Linked DNA regions of Homo sapiens. The protein of the gene in region 2 interacts with the protein of the main gene of each other region in a biochemical or structural test. Each region holds a gene or a part of one and is shown on either strand. Other genes may lie near its edges.

Region 1 (5,962 bases), on a different chromosome or scaffold from region 2:
AGAGTACATACACGATATAGAATGTTTATCTTCCCCTTCATCCAAACCTATAAGAAAAAGCAAACGACCTTCCATGTGTTCCTTAAGGATAAGAGGTAAGTCAAATAATCAAATTCTTAACGGAGATGCCTCAAAGTAATTATTCTGGTGAATCTCAGAATGATGGACGGAAGCATACAGGGCACTGTCAGTAAAGGATGAGAATGTTACGTAAGTACTAAAAGGTATAAGGTCAGAGTAATTTCTGTTGGGTAGGCCTAACTAAAAAGTTCAAGAGTGGGTTCTTGCCCTGCCTGCACCTATTACAGTCCATGTCACAGGGTAGGTACTCAAAACATGGGTACTACATAAATGAGTTTTTTCCAGATACTGGATATCTGGCAAATATCTAAAAGCTTAATACATGGCAGAAAATAAGAAAACACCTATTCCTTCCTCACAGGATCAAAATATAATAATAAAAAGATGTTTTATAAATTTTGTCTGAATACACACTTGAGATACGTTATTGTTAGAAGAGAATACTTTATTTTGAAATAAAATACAAATGTGCAAAGGAAATTAGCTCCTCCTGCCCCCCCTTTGAACAATGAGTCAATAGAATGTGAGACTGGGTAGATTAGCAGATAATAGGCAAAGGTCTAGCTTTTCAGTGGCAACTTGAAGAAACCAAAGATGAATGATGCTAAAGGAATGACCCTTTGGTACCTGTTTTAAAGTACTTCTGGCCCCCTTCTTTTATAAACCCCCAGGAGCCCAGCACCACACCTTGTTACCCTACAATGATCACTCACGCTCCACGATGTCACTAATGTAATAACTGAAGATATGGGCCAGTTTGTCCATGTCACGTTCCGACTTGTAGGTCAGGGTGAACCTGTCCATTAATGCTGTAAACCCTGACCAACAAAGCAGAAATTACGATGTTAACTCCAAATCCTAAACTTTTTGGCCCCTTTCTCCCCACACATCAGGCCAGTGTAAAGGAAACAGATCCCTTCAAGCTGAGTAATTCCTTTATCCATTAACATGGTGTAACTTAGAAACTACTAAGGGCCAGGTTGGTTGCTGCTGCCACTGGGAATCCAAAGGACCACCCTCTCTGCTTCCAAGAGCTGGAGATGGTGCCCTTTTCATCTGGAGCCAGCTCTTTCCCCTACTCTCTTAGGCTGCCTAGCTATGGGAAACAATAGGATCCCTCCTCATGTCTGGCTAGAGAACCACTCACACAGTGAGGACAGGCACCTGGTATTACCCATCTTCATATCCCTGACACAGAGTAAGTATTTGTTAAATGAACGACTCGCGGAGTGGCTGCTAGATAGCTACGGCCAGAACAACGGCGGGCATATACTTATGACGCCAAGAACGAATTAACTGAACGAATAAAATAATTGAAACAGAACGCTTAATAGAAAATGCTCGGGGTTGGGAAAAACGGGTTCAAAGCCCGGGGCGTGGTCCTGTAAAAATCCTTTCCTCTGAGTTTCAATTTCATCATCTTTGGGGTGAGCTCAAGGACTGAGCCGGTTCATCCCAAAAGATGTCCTCCCACGCTAAAACGAAGATACTCAAAGTTTCCTAAGGAAGCCGCAGCACGAAGTTAAACTGTGCCTTAGCTCGCGGGAGGCTAGGCCTGTAACCGTCGAGGCCTCCAGGGGCTTAGACCCAACGGCCGCCTCTCCCGCAGGCCAGGAGACTTAAGTGCAAGTGCCGGCCGTCGCCCTCACCCGTCACATGGACGCCTAGGAGGACGCCCTGGGCCGTGGCGAGCTCGGGTTCCCATCCCCGAGGCTTCCGAAAGACCAGTAGGTCGGGAAGCAGCGCCGCCAAGCGGGCCTCCACAGGCCACAGAGGCGGCGTCGCATGCCGCTCGCCGGTCACCATGGCTGCCCGCCTAGGTACCGGAAACAGGGCCCAGCCGCGTAGCAGCCAATCCGCCTAGCAGGCTCTATTGGAGGCCTGCCGCCGATCAATCCGCGCAGGCTTCCTTGGGACAACGCCAATCGGAAGCGACTTCAGTCGCCGCCCCACCACCTTCCCACATTCTTAGCGGGGCCTACTTCCCCGGGGAGAAGGGGCTGGAGGTGCGGCGGTCTGCGCTTTCAAAGGAGCAAAGCTGTCTTTTCTACTGGAAACGGGGGAGGCGAAGACGCTCCTACGATAAAGCCGTTGGTGTGAGATAAATATCGAGAGGTCTTTCCCTCATACCACAGAGTAGAATCTTGGGTCATCTCTGAATTTGGTAAGGACAGGTTCCACTGGCATAAATCTAAGCCAAACTCAAGCACAGTTTGACTAAAGCTATCAAATACTGTCAGTGCTTTTCCTTCATTGTGGAGAGTTTCTCCTCTCTCATCTGCCAGGGCAGGTCTACTGCTCTCATCATTGAGTGCTTCCTCGGGCTGTTTGTCTCTTGTGTGTTGATAATGGCATATCGGAGGCTTCTAGTCTTTGTTGCTTAGATTCCCAGCGACCGTAAGGTAAAACAGTAACAAGGTGAGCATGCTGTGGATTTTTAACAATCAGAAAAGTACTTTTGTTTTGGTCTTCTGCCAAAACAAAATCTAACAAAACGTAAATAGTACATCTTCACTACCTGAAATTCTACAATACTTAAGGCTGTTTTTGTGATAACGGCTAATTTTCCTCATGGAATTACTTCATCACATTTTGATAAACACTTTCAGTAGTAGCATCAAATGTATGATCAGCCTGCAGGTGACAGAAAAAATCTCCTCAACAGGGTGGAAGGGCCAAAAGGGAAGAAATTAAGGGGAGATAAAGCTAAGAGGCTCAGACATTACAAGTTTGATACTGTTTACAGAGACACCGTCCATGCAGACAAGTCTTGTCGGGGGAGATCAAAATTTCAACACTGGAAACACAAACTAGAACCCAGGAGTTGCAGATTCCTCAAAAGTCACATTACTTTTCGGTTATTTTTATAAATTTATTTTAAAAAATAACAATTGCAATGACATTAATGATCGATCACCTGTACGCCCCCATACTGCTGGGGGAAAAACCTTCGATATAGTTGAATCCCAAAGAAAAATCAAGACATTATTATCAGGCACCCTATAGCCACAAAATGCTCTGTTGGTCCAGTGGCATCGACACTGACATGTTCAATGTACCAGTGCAGTTAAAATATATACACTTAAAATTATCCTGCAAAAAAAAAAAAAAGCACTCAAGTTGCATAACTAGGCATTAAACCAATTATTCATTCATCCATTCACTCTTTCTCCATCTGTAAAGTTATCACTACAGTCACAAATAAAAATGAATAAAAGAACTAGTATCAAAGAAAAAATCCAAATGTCAATACCCTGCCCCCACTTTGTGGGCTACTATGGTGTGCCAAAGTGACCACAAGAAAAGGGTCATGAGCTATTTGAAATGCAATGACAAAATGACAACTGAAGCATTTCAAACAAAATTCAAAGTCATCTCCCCCCAAATAAAAAATTCAGCAACAAGGCTGGCATTACTATGTACAAACTTACAGACACAAATAAATAGCATCTTCTAACTGTTGGCAGCTTAAGCACTCAAAGTTAGGTCTGAGTAATTTCTTTCTGAACTCTGCATCTTAGACTCCTAAATTAACCAAGGAATATAAATTCCTCATTGTTAGTAATCTATTCTCTGAAAAACTTGGGACTTACTGAATAACATTAATATCCCAAACTCTTGTAGAGCTAGAAGTTTCTAGTGAGCTTACCAAAGGATCAGTCCTTTGACATCTGGAAGCCAGGAGCGATTACCAGATCCCTGGGACTAGGAATATTTCACTTCCTGTTTCCTTTGCATAGCTCTGTACCTCTATTTCTATCATTACAATCATCTCTCTTTGTGGTGTTTTTAGAGGGCTTAATTTCTGTCTTAATACAGTTAAGCTGAAGTCAAAGAAGAACCAATTTTTATTCTTGGTATTTAACCCCCAATGTTCCTCGGAATTATTGGGTTTTCCTTGTTTCCAGAGAAGGCAGCCAACTCTTCTGAAATATCATCTTAGTTCTCTCAGGGTTCAACATCTAAAAGAGAAATAGATTTCTGAGGCACAACCCGTTCTGGGAACAGTGGCCCAGTTCCTGACCCTGCAGGCATGTTTCTTTCAGTCTGCAGTTTATTCTCACAGTATGGATGCAATGAGAAAACCTTTCTGCACAAGGCCTATGGAGAAAACATGAAAACTGGCACCAAAGAATCAGCTGCCATGGGAAGAATGAAAATGCTCGCTTTCTAGGGCCAGCATTGTGCTGCAGGAGTGAAGCCAACATCCACCTCAAGCTTTAGTGGGTAACTTGGACTCTGTCCAGGACAGTGTGACTGACCAGTGCTTTCCAGAAATTGTCAAGGATCAAATCTCAGGCTTCTTCCTTTCAGTGCTTGTTAAAGGTTCTAGAGTAAATGTGAATTACTCTCTTCATCTTAATGATCCATTCCAGGTATCCATCCACTGGAGAATCGTGCTCTATGATAACATACGGGTATACATGCTCTCTCTCTCTCTTCCTCTCCCCCACTCTCTCCCACTAGGCTGAAACACATGAATCTTTTAGTTCCCCAAATGCTGTCACAAAGTCTATGATTGAAAATCTCTAGTTTGGCCCTTCCTTTAGGAGTATTACAAATCTCCTCAGTGCTTCAGCAAAGAAGTTGTTGAATAGTCTTGTTCTCTACTTAGGAAAGGCAGTTTCAAGGTTTAATAACCCTCTACATTGTCTTAGAAGTAGCCACAGCAAGTACGATGGTCCAGATGACCAGTCAACAGAGGGACAAGCAGGCCACAACTTTTCAAAGCTAGAAAAAGAGATTCGGCAATGTATATTTTTAGTGCTTGAGTCTTTTATCATTCTATCCCCAGAATTAGCTTTTTCTTGGCTAGAGTCCAGAAATATCAACCTACCATCTGGGCAGAGAGGAATTCTTATTATTACCACAGATTGGAAGAATGTATCTCAGGAATTTATTGTTTCCGTATCACAAGATAGAACTTCCTTGCCTGGAAGCCATCTCTGAATACAAAGCGTCCATTCAGTTAGTCAGTGTGAGATTCCCCCACCAGAGGGATAAATGCTGTCTAGATTCCATGGGAAGGAGTGGGCTGCTGCTTTCCTGATTGCAGTTTTGGTTGAGAAGGTTGTTCTTCCCTGCTGAGATGGCTGGCTGACTTCACCAGTCAAGGTAAGTGCTTTGTGTACTGCTGGGGTGGCATGTGTCTCCTTGCATCATCCGAATCCATGAAATGTCAATGTCATCAACAGTCTGAAATAGGTCCTGACTGAAAGAGTAAGACAAAGGCTTGCAACTTCAATTTGCCAGGCATCGCTGCAATTGTAATACTGAGCCACTTATTAAAAACTAAGTGGTTTCTGTCCTGTAGTAAAGGGCAGAATGTGATCATCAATGTCCCATTGGAAGAGTTGATCAATTTCCTGGAACAGTGAGAAACATGACCTTGATCAGCTCCATCACATGGCGTGGGGTTAGGACACTCGGATGATCTGTGTCATTGCTTCTTCATCGGCTTGGTTTGGATCCTAGAGACAAAGATGACATGATGATTAAAGTCCTTTGCAAAAGCAACAGGAACTCATGGCTCTCACTACTTATCCCCCCAAGAGAATACACATAACTTTACCAAGTAAATCAAAGGCTTGTAATACATCTTAAGTCTGCATACATGGCTTAAAGTGTAGCCCCATTAGGAAAGAAGAGACAATAAACCTTATTCTTAAAATAATTTAAAGTCTGGCCTGCACTCCATGGTGAAACACTGCAGGGCTGTTAGTGTATCTCTTTCCTAAGAACCTTGTGTTGTTCTCTATACTTAAGGGTTAAGAGTATTCAGATTCAGGTGTCTAAGGAAAAGACCCAGAGAAACCATGTCATGCTGTATTTTTGTCACTGTTTTTTGATCATCATTTAAATACTGAGTACTTAGCAGGGC
Region 2 (7,032 bases):
ACTTTAACAGTGTTCTACTACATTTTAAAAAAGATTAAAAATAAGTCCTCAATGTAATACACTATAAGAAGTTAGTGGATTGTTTCAAATTCTATGCTTACCCACTACTAAAAAAAAGTCTAAAATATTTTATAATTAAACAGAGCCACAACTGCACTGAATTTGCAAGCTTCTGGTTTTTCTGGCTGTTTGGACTTCAAATTAAATGATTAACAGATAACAATATGTTGGCCTGGTTAGCCACAAAAGCATGCTATTTGGTAAGATTTTACATGAATAAAAACAAACTTTTTTTTCTTGAGACGGAGTCCCACTCTGTTGCCCAGGCTGGAGTGCACTGGGGCAATCTCGGCTCACTGCAACCGCCGCCTCCCAGGTTCAAGCAATTCTCTGCCTCAGCCTCCCAAGTAGTTGGGATTACAGGCGCCCGCCACCACGCCTGGCTAATTTTTGTATTTTTTTTAGTAGAGACGGGGTTTCACCATCTTGTCCAGGCTGGTCTTGAACTCCTGACATCATAATCCACCCGCCTCGGCCTCCCAAAGTGCTGGGATTACAGGCATGACCCACTGTGCCTGGCCACAAACTTTGTTTTTTACAACAATTCTGGGTCAAATAAGAGCATTTAGGGCTGAGTGAGGTGGCTCACGCATGTAATCCCAGCACTTTGGGAGGCCGAGGCGGGTGGATCACCTGAGGTCAGGAGTTTGAGACCAGCCTGGCCAACATGGTGAAACCCTGTCTCTACTAAAAATACAAAAATTAGCCCGGCGTCGTGGCGTGCACTTATAATTCCAGCTACTCGGGAGGTTGAGGCAGGAGAATCGCTTGAACCTGGGAGAAGAAGGTTGCAGTAAGCCGAGATTGCGCCATTGCACTCCAGCCTGGATGATAAGAGCACAACTCTGTCTCAAAAAAAAAAAAAAAAGAGCATTTAGAAGATACTATAGTTTTTAGGGATCATGTTAATTTTGATGTAGCATCAAAAATAAAACTGTTCTTAGGTAGCAAAAATATACACACTGAGAATCCCTTGGAATCTGCATTTGTATATATACCGAGAATGTTTGGGACTCTGTATTCTATTTAGTTTCACTTCTCTCTGAGTCAAGAGTTCTGTTTAGCCAGCTGAAAATACTTTAACACGTTTGTATTCAACTAGAAGTTACAAATCCACAAAAATCACGGAATGCCTAAACAGTACAAACAAAGAATTAGGTCATATTAAAACAAAAGGTATCCACCGTGTTAAAAAAAATAAAGGTGATTTTATACAATTAAGGTATTTTCAAAGTTAAAATGTAAAAATAAAAATAAAATGTTAAAACATTTAGAAACATCAAGTTCTTAAAAAATTAAATTAGGAATTTGACAACACAAATTTACATCCACAGCAAATGTTTTTAAAGATTGCTGGTAACCTACAATCATGACCTGAGAGATAAGTCTCAAGAAAACTGTAAAAAATAGTCTCAAGACAATAGAAAATCAAGTATTAAAGTGAATATACAAACAGGAATAAAAATAATAAAAGTGAAAGCATCTAAGAAATTGTGGTCAAAGATAATCAAATGTCAGAGGATACCTTTGCTAATGCTAATTAAGGCTGAAAGGTAAGAAACCCTATCCTCTCTATCTGTTTTTTTCCATCTGAGAAAGCAGACCTTAATGACACTAAAGATTAAAAGAAGAATCCAAATCGGACAGATTTTTTTCTGGCAAGCTCTGACCACAGATTTGCGGGAGTGAAATGTCTTTTTGAAAGGTCTCTCCCTAGGACACTAACATCCTAGTTTTCTCCCCACAGCTGGCAGGTAGGTAGGTAAGTACGTAATACATTGAAAGTGATATATAAACTAGCAGTATCATGAAATCTCTTATCTTGTGAAGAGTTTGTGAATGTGATCGAAAAGTCATTTTCTACTGAAAACAATTTTTCCCTACTTTTCTCAAGAAGGTGTGTTAAGTCTTTTACAGCCAGTCTAACACAAGAATGCTATTCTCAGTTCCAAGTGAGATTACCTTTGAAGACTGAAAAACCATTCATCTGGTCATTATCTTCCCTATTTATAATGGTAAGGTAACTGTTACCCACTTCACTGAGGATATAATGATTTGATTTTTCAAAATACTTTGAAAGATAATAGTAATCAGTATTGGTAATATCAACTTATAAGAACTCTGTTATCCATTTTTTAAAAATGAAAACTGCCACATTAATGTTTATCAAATCTTTCCTAGTATTTTCTGGAATCATCTAAAATAACAATAGGACAAATGCTTCTTATAAAAGCCAATTAATTAATCAGATAAAATATAAAAACAATTATGTACAAATACATTCAAATATATATATATTTTTTACGTCACACAGGTAATGTGCCAGTGTCATAACAAGGTTTGAGAAAGGCACATTTCACACATAAGCATGAAAACCCAATCATCACACTTAAGAACTACAAAAGGATCAATATTCAAATATTTAAGTTTTGGTATGGTTAATATAAGTAAGAGTATTTAATTAATATCCTGACTCTTATAATTAACTATTATTAGTAGCCTACGTTTTGAAAATACAGTTTCAGAATTTGTTCTTGTACATCCTGAAGCATTTTTCTGGATATAGGCAAAAGCATAGCAAAATTTCTAGATCAATTTCCCCATACCAAAGGTACATTTTGTCTTGTTTACCTCTGTTATCACAGCACTTGGTATAGTGCCTGACACAGCAGATTTTATCAAATACTAATTTTAAAATCAATTATAAATATACAAGATTTATTATGAAGTATGATGCCGTCTCCTTTTAAATTAAAGCAGTCCTATACTTATAGCTCTTAAAATTTGAAAGTATATTAAAAAAAAGTGTTAAGCATATGTCTGCTGCTTTTTAAGGAAAGCTTTTAAAAACTTTAGACAAATATAGTATCATGGGATCTAAAGTGAGTACATTCAGTATCTGAGTTTTACCATACCAAAACAATGAAACACATACTTGCCACAGCTTCCTTAGCATTCTGTTCTTTGAAATGGAAGGGTATCCCTTCTAGTTAGATGTTTAGCTCAGGCCATCATTACCAACAGGTCCAAAGCAGCAGTCTGTCTTCTCCTACAAAAAAGTCATATTTTATTATTCTAGATATAATTTAGCCTTAGTCAGGAAATTTTTACAATTTAATGCCTTAGCTTTTAATAAATAAATGTAATTTTGAAAAAAAAAGTTTATTCCCTCATCAAAACTTTAAAAGAACCATTTAAATACCAATCCTAATATTGGTAGTAAACACAAAAACTACACATTAAAAAAACTCTATTTATATCATATAGAACAACTAAATAACTATTAGACCATTTTGAATAAAATTTCAAAACGTGAATATATGCCGTCTCTAGTGTGAAAATTGAGATGCAGAAATTGGGAGTTCTTTAAAATGAGTATACCGGCCGGGCGCGGTGGCTCACACCTGTAATCCCAGCACTTCGGGAGGCCAAGGCCGGCGGATCACCTGAGGTTGGGAGTTTGAGACCAGTCTGACCAACAAGGAGAAACCCCGTCTCTACTAAAAATACAAAATTAGCTGGGCGTGGTGGCGCATGCCTGTAATCCCAGCTACTCGGGAAGCTGAGGCAGGAGAATCGCTTGAACCGGGGAGGCAGAGGTTGCAGTGAGCCGAGATTGCGCCATTGCACCCCAGTCTGGGCAACAAGAGCGAAACTCTGACTCTAAATAAATAAATAAATAAATAAGTATACAAAGGTTATGAAGACAATTTAGTTAAACTAAGAAATGGGAGTAGTTGTATATGTTTATGTGTTAGTACATAAACCTAGTGATATTTGTATCCTAATTTATTATGTTAATCAGAATGGAGAGGATTATTAATGCTGACAACACAAGCCAAAACAAGTTAAACAAACTAGTAGTACTTGATCTACAAACATGGGGTTATCTAACAAAATGACTGGTGTTTAGCCATGTCGTTTTTGCCTGAAAGCTACTACCAAATGGCTTTACAATCAGTGCACTGTGAAGTATTAACATCATGCAATCAAATAAACAGAAAATAATTCTCTGAAAATTCAATTACTGTCCAAATATGTTGTTGTATATAATCTAGATCAGTTAAACCCATCAGAAAAGTTTAATAAAGCTACAATTGCTTTTCTTACTAGAACAGTCATAAATAACACTTTTGAAGGGTTAAAGCATTTTGGTTGTATTCTTTTTTTTTTGAGATGGAGTCTCACTGTGTCGCCCAGCTGGAGTGCAGTGGCGCAATATCGAATCACTGCAATCTCCGACTCCCTGGTTCAAGCGATTCTCCTGCCTCAGCCTCCCGAGTAGCTGGGATTACAGGCACACGCCACCACACCCAACTAATTTTTGTATTTTTAGTAGAGACAGGGTTTCACCATGTTGGCCAGGATGGTCTCTATCTCCTGAGCTCAAGTGATCTGCCCGCCTTGGCCTCCCAAAGTGCTGGGATTACAGGCATGATCCCTAACCGGCCTTTTGTTGTATTCTTTAAGCACTATTCTCTGTAAACTATAATGAATAAATATTAAGGAAGAGTATTTTCCCAATTAACCTTATTTTTTTATTCCTGCTACTATTACATACAAGTTTATGAAGAAACTTCTCACATCAAGAAATAATGTAAATACACCAGTCCTTTAGTAAAATACCTCTAGGTTAGGTTAAAACTTAGGCTGAATAAGTACACTATTTTCATGAAAAGCAAAAGAGCATTTTCCTGGTAGGCCCAGTGGAGCATCTTATTATCTCTGTAGCCTGGGACTCTACAGTTTCATTTCCTGGTATCTCCTTGTTCCGCCACTCGTTAGCCATCAATCTACAGGATGTGGACTAGAAGAGAAGATAGGAAACAGCTGCCAAAGAGGGAAGGTTATTTTCCAAAATGAATTATTAATACTTTAGGAATCTGGTAACCTACTTCAATCCATTCTTAAAATCACACAGTAATTGCAAGATATTTTACCGAATGAGTCTCTTGAGAAGAGCTGCCAAGACATGTAAAGGCACCAGGATACCAGAGGAGCAAAAATGAGCTCATCAGTGCTTTTGAATGAAAATCCTAGTTGCCTGATGTTATTTAAGTTCCTGATACTGGGATTACTTTAGAACATTTCTATCTAATTCAAAGTATTTTTCTTAATTTAGTATGAGTGAATTCCAAAAATTAAAGAGCTCATCTCAGCTATGTACATTATATAATAAAACAGAACAAGCTGTTCTGGTAGTAGATGGATTACAAAAAAAGACTGAGAGCTTGGAATTTGGAACAGACTGGGTTCAAATACAGCATGCCACTTACTAGCTGTGTGACTTTAGAAAAATGGCTTAGCCTATCTGTGCCTCAGCCCCATCATCTATAAATGGGACTGGTAATATTAATAGGATACTATTTACTTAATAGGGTTGTTGTGAGGATTGGAATAGGTAACACGTGTAAAGTTTCTGGAATATTCCTTGGTACTTAGAACACAATGAATGTTAGCAAAGAAATCTTTCTTTAAAATTTGCTAACTGTTGACAAGTGATAAAATACTTTAAGAATCTGGGTAACAACCAACCAACAAAATTTATTTGCCATTTCATACCTCTGAGCATATTAAATCATGCTGGAACAAGTTGGCTTCAAAAGGCAGATACTAATCAATCAAATTTAACCTCTCCCCCCACAAACTTTTTCTGACCTTAGCTTCAAAATAAATCATTACTGTATGACATATTTAAGGGGTATTTCATAGAACTAGCAAACATCTGATATAAGTAATTTTATCATAGTAACGAGGAGAAATTGTTCTCATGATCTTCCCCACTCCCAAGTATAGCCCATGTCTAGCAAAATTTTAACAAACTTCTTTTTAAGAATATTGATGGTAAAAGAGAATAAACTTAGAAGAAAAATATAATTATTAGTTTAGTGCTTAGAAATATCAGAACCTCCTATCTTCTTTCATTTCTCACTAAAAAACAAAAAAGGAAAAGACTTTTAAGAAGGGGAAAAAGGAAGTTAGAAATCTTGAGAAATAGGAAATCACCAAAATTTAATGAAAGAGTTATTTTATTTACAATAATATATGATATGGCTATGACTTCGATATTTTAATTTTGTTAAGATAAATTCTGATAATATTTTTTAAAATCTAAAACTAAGAACTGAAAATTAAAATCTTGCATTAAAAATGATTTATTTGGCTGAGTGCAGTGGCTCACACCTGTAATCCCAGCATGTTGGGAGGCCAAGGCAGAAGGATTGCTTGAGGCCAGGAGTTTGAGACCAGCTAGGGCAACACAGTAAGACCCTATCTCTACAAAAAAAAAAATTAAAAATTAGCCGGGCGTGGGTGACACATGACTGTAGTCCTAGCTACTCAAGAGGCTGAGGAGAAAGGATCGCTTGAGCACAGGAGTTTGAGGGTGCAGTGAGCCATGATCATGCCACTGCACTCCAGCCTGGGCCACAGAATGAGACCCCGTCTCAAAAAAAAAAAAAAAAAAATGTATTCAACTGGCTCCCTTGAATAAACATAATTCTTAAACTGCTCATATATACTTATTTTACAAAGTATATCATCACATTTGTTTAGACCAAAGGTATACAGTCTTACCTCTTAAGTTGGAAACTGATTGTATAAAATGCCAAGATTAAGTATCTTTTAAGATCAAAACCTGGCAACTACATACAAAGTTACATATTAATATTTACTTTAAGAATATCCTGTATAAAATGCAGATCTCCAAAATGTAAACTCAAATGTATATTCTGATTAATAATCTAAGTCAGCAACTTTAGTCATGCAAATCTGGTTATTGATGACTACAAATATATCAGAGCAACAAGGATACAATAAAATTTATCAATAATAGTATAGAAACATTGGCTCTTATTCTAAAGATAGTATCAGTTTTAAAAACAGAACTATAACTTACTTTTGAAACTACGTAGGATTATTTAAAAGGATTTTAAGTTCAAAAAATTTAGTCTTAACAGTAAATGTGCTTAT

The links. Proteins that work in one complex are often made in the same cells at the same time.
Region 1: the proteins of ZHX1 (region 2) and NFYA form a complex in vitro, tested with the Homo sapiens proteins (2 studies listed by BioGRID).

Annotation. Positions count from the first base shown.
Region 1 is NC_000006.12:41,096,947-41,102,908, reverse strand, and holds the end of NFYA (nuclear transcription factor Y subunit alpha), read right to left. Parts: intron 5,553-5,962; coding exon 5,499-5,552; 3' UTR 506-5,498; downstream 1-505. UniProt on the Homo sapiens protein: Component of the sequence-specific heterotrimeric transcription factor (NF-Y) which specifically recognizes a 5'-CCAAT-3' box motif found in the promoters of its target genes.
Region 2 is NC_000008.11:123,264,278-123,271,309, forward strand, and holds part of ZHX1 (zinc fingers and homeoboxes protein 1), read right to left. Parts: intron 3,110-7,032; 5' UTR 3,017-3,109; coding exon of another isoform or gene 2,996-3,016; intron 2,469-2,995; exon of another isoform or gene 2,365-2,468; intron 1-2,364. Other genes in the region: ZHX1-C8orf76 (zinc fingers and homeoboxes protein 1), read right to left, coding at 2,996-3,016. UniProt on the Homo sapiens protein: Acts as a transcriptional repressor. Increases DNMT3B-mediated repressive transcriptional activity when DNMT3B is tethered to DNA. May link molecule between DNMT3B and other co-repressor proteins.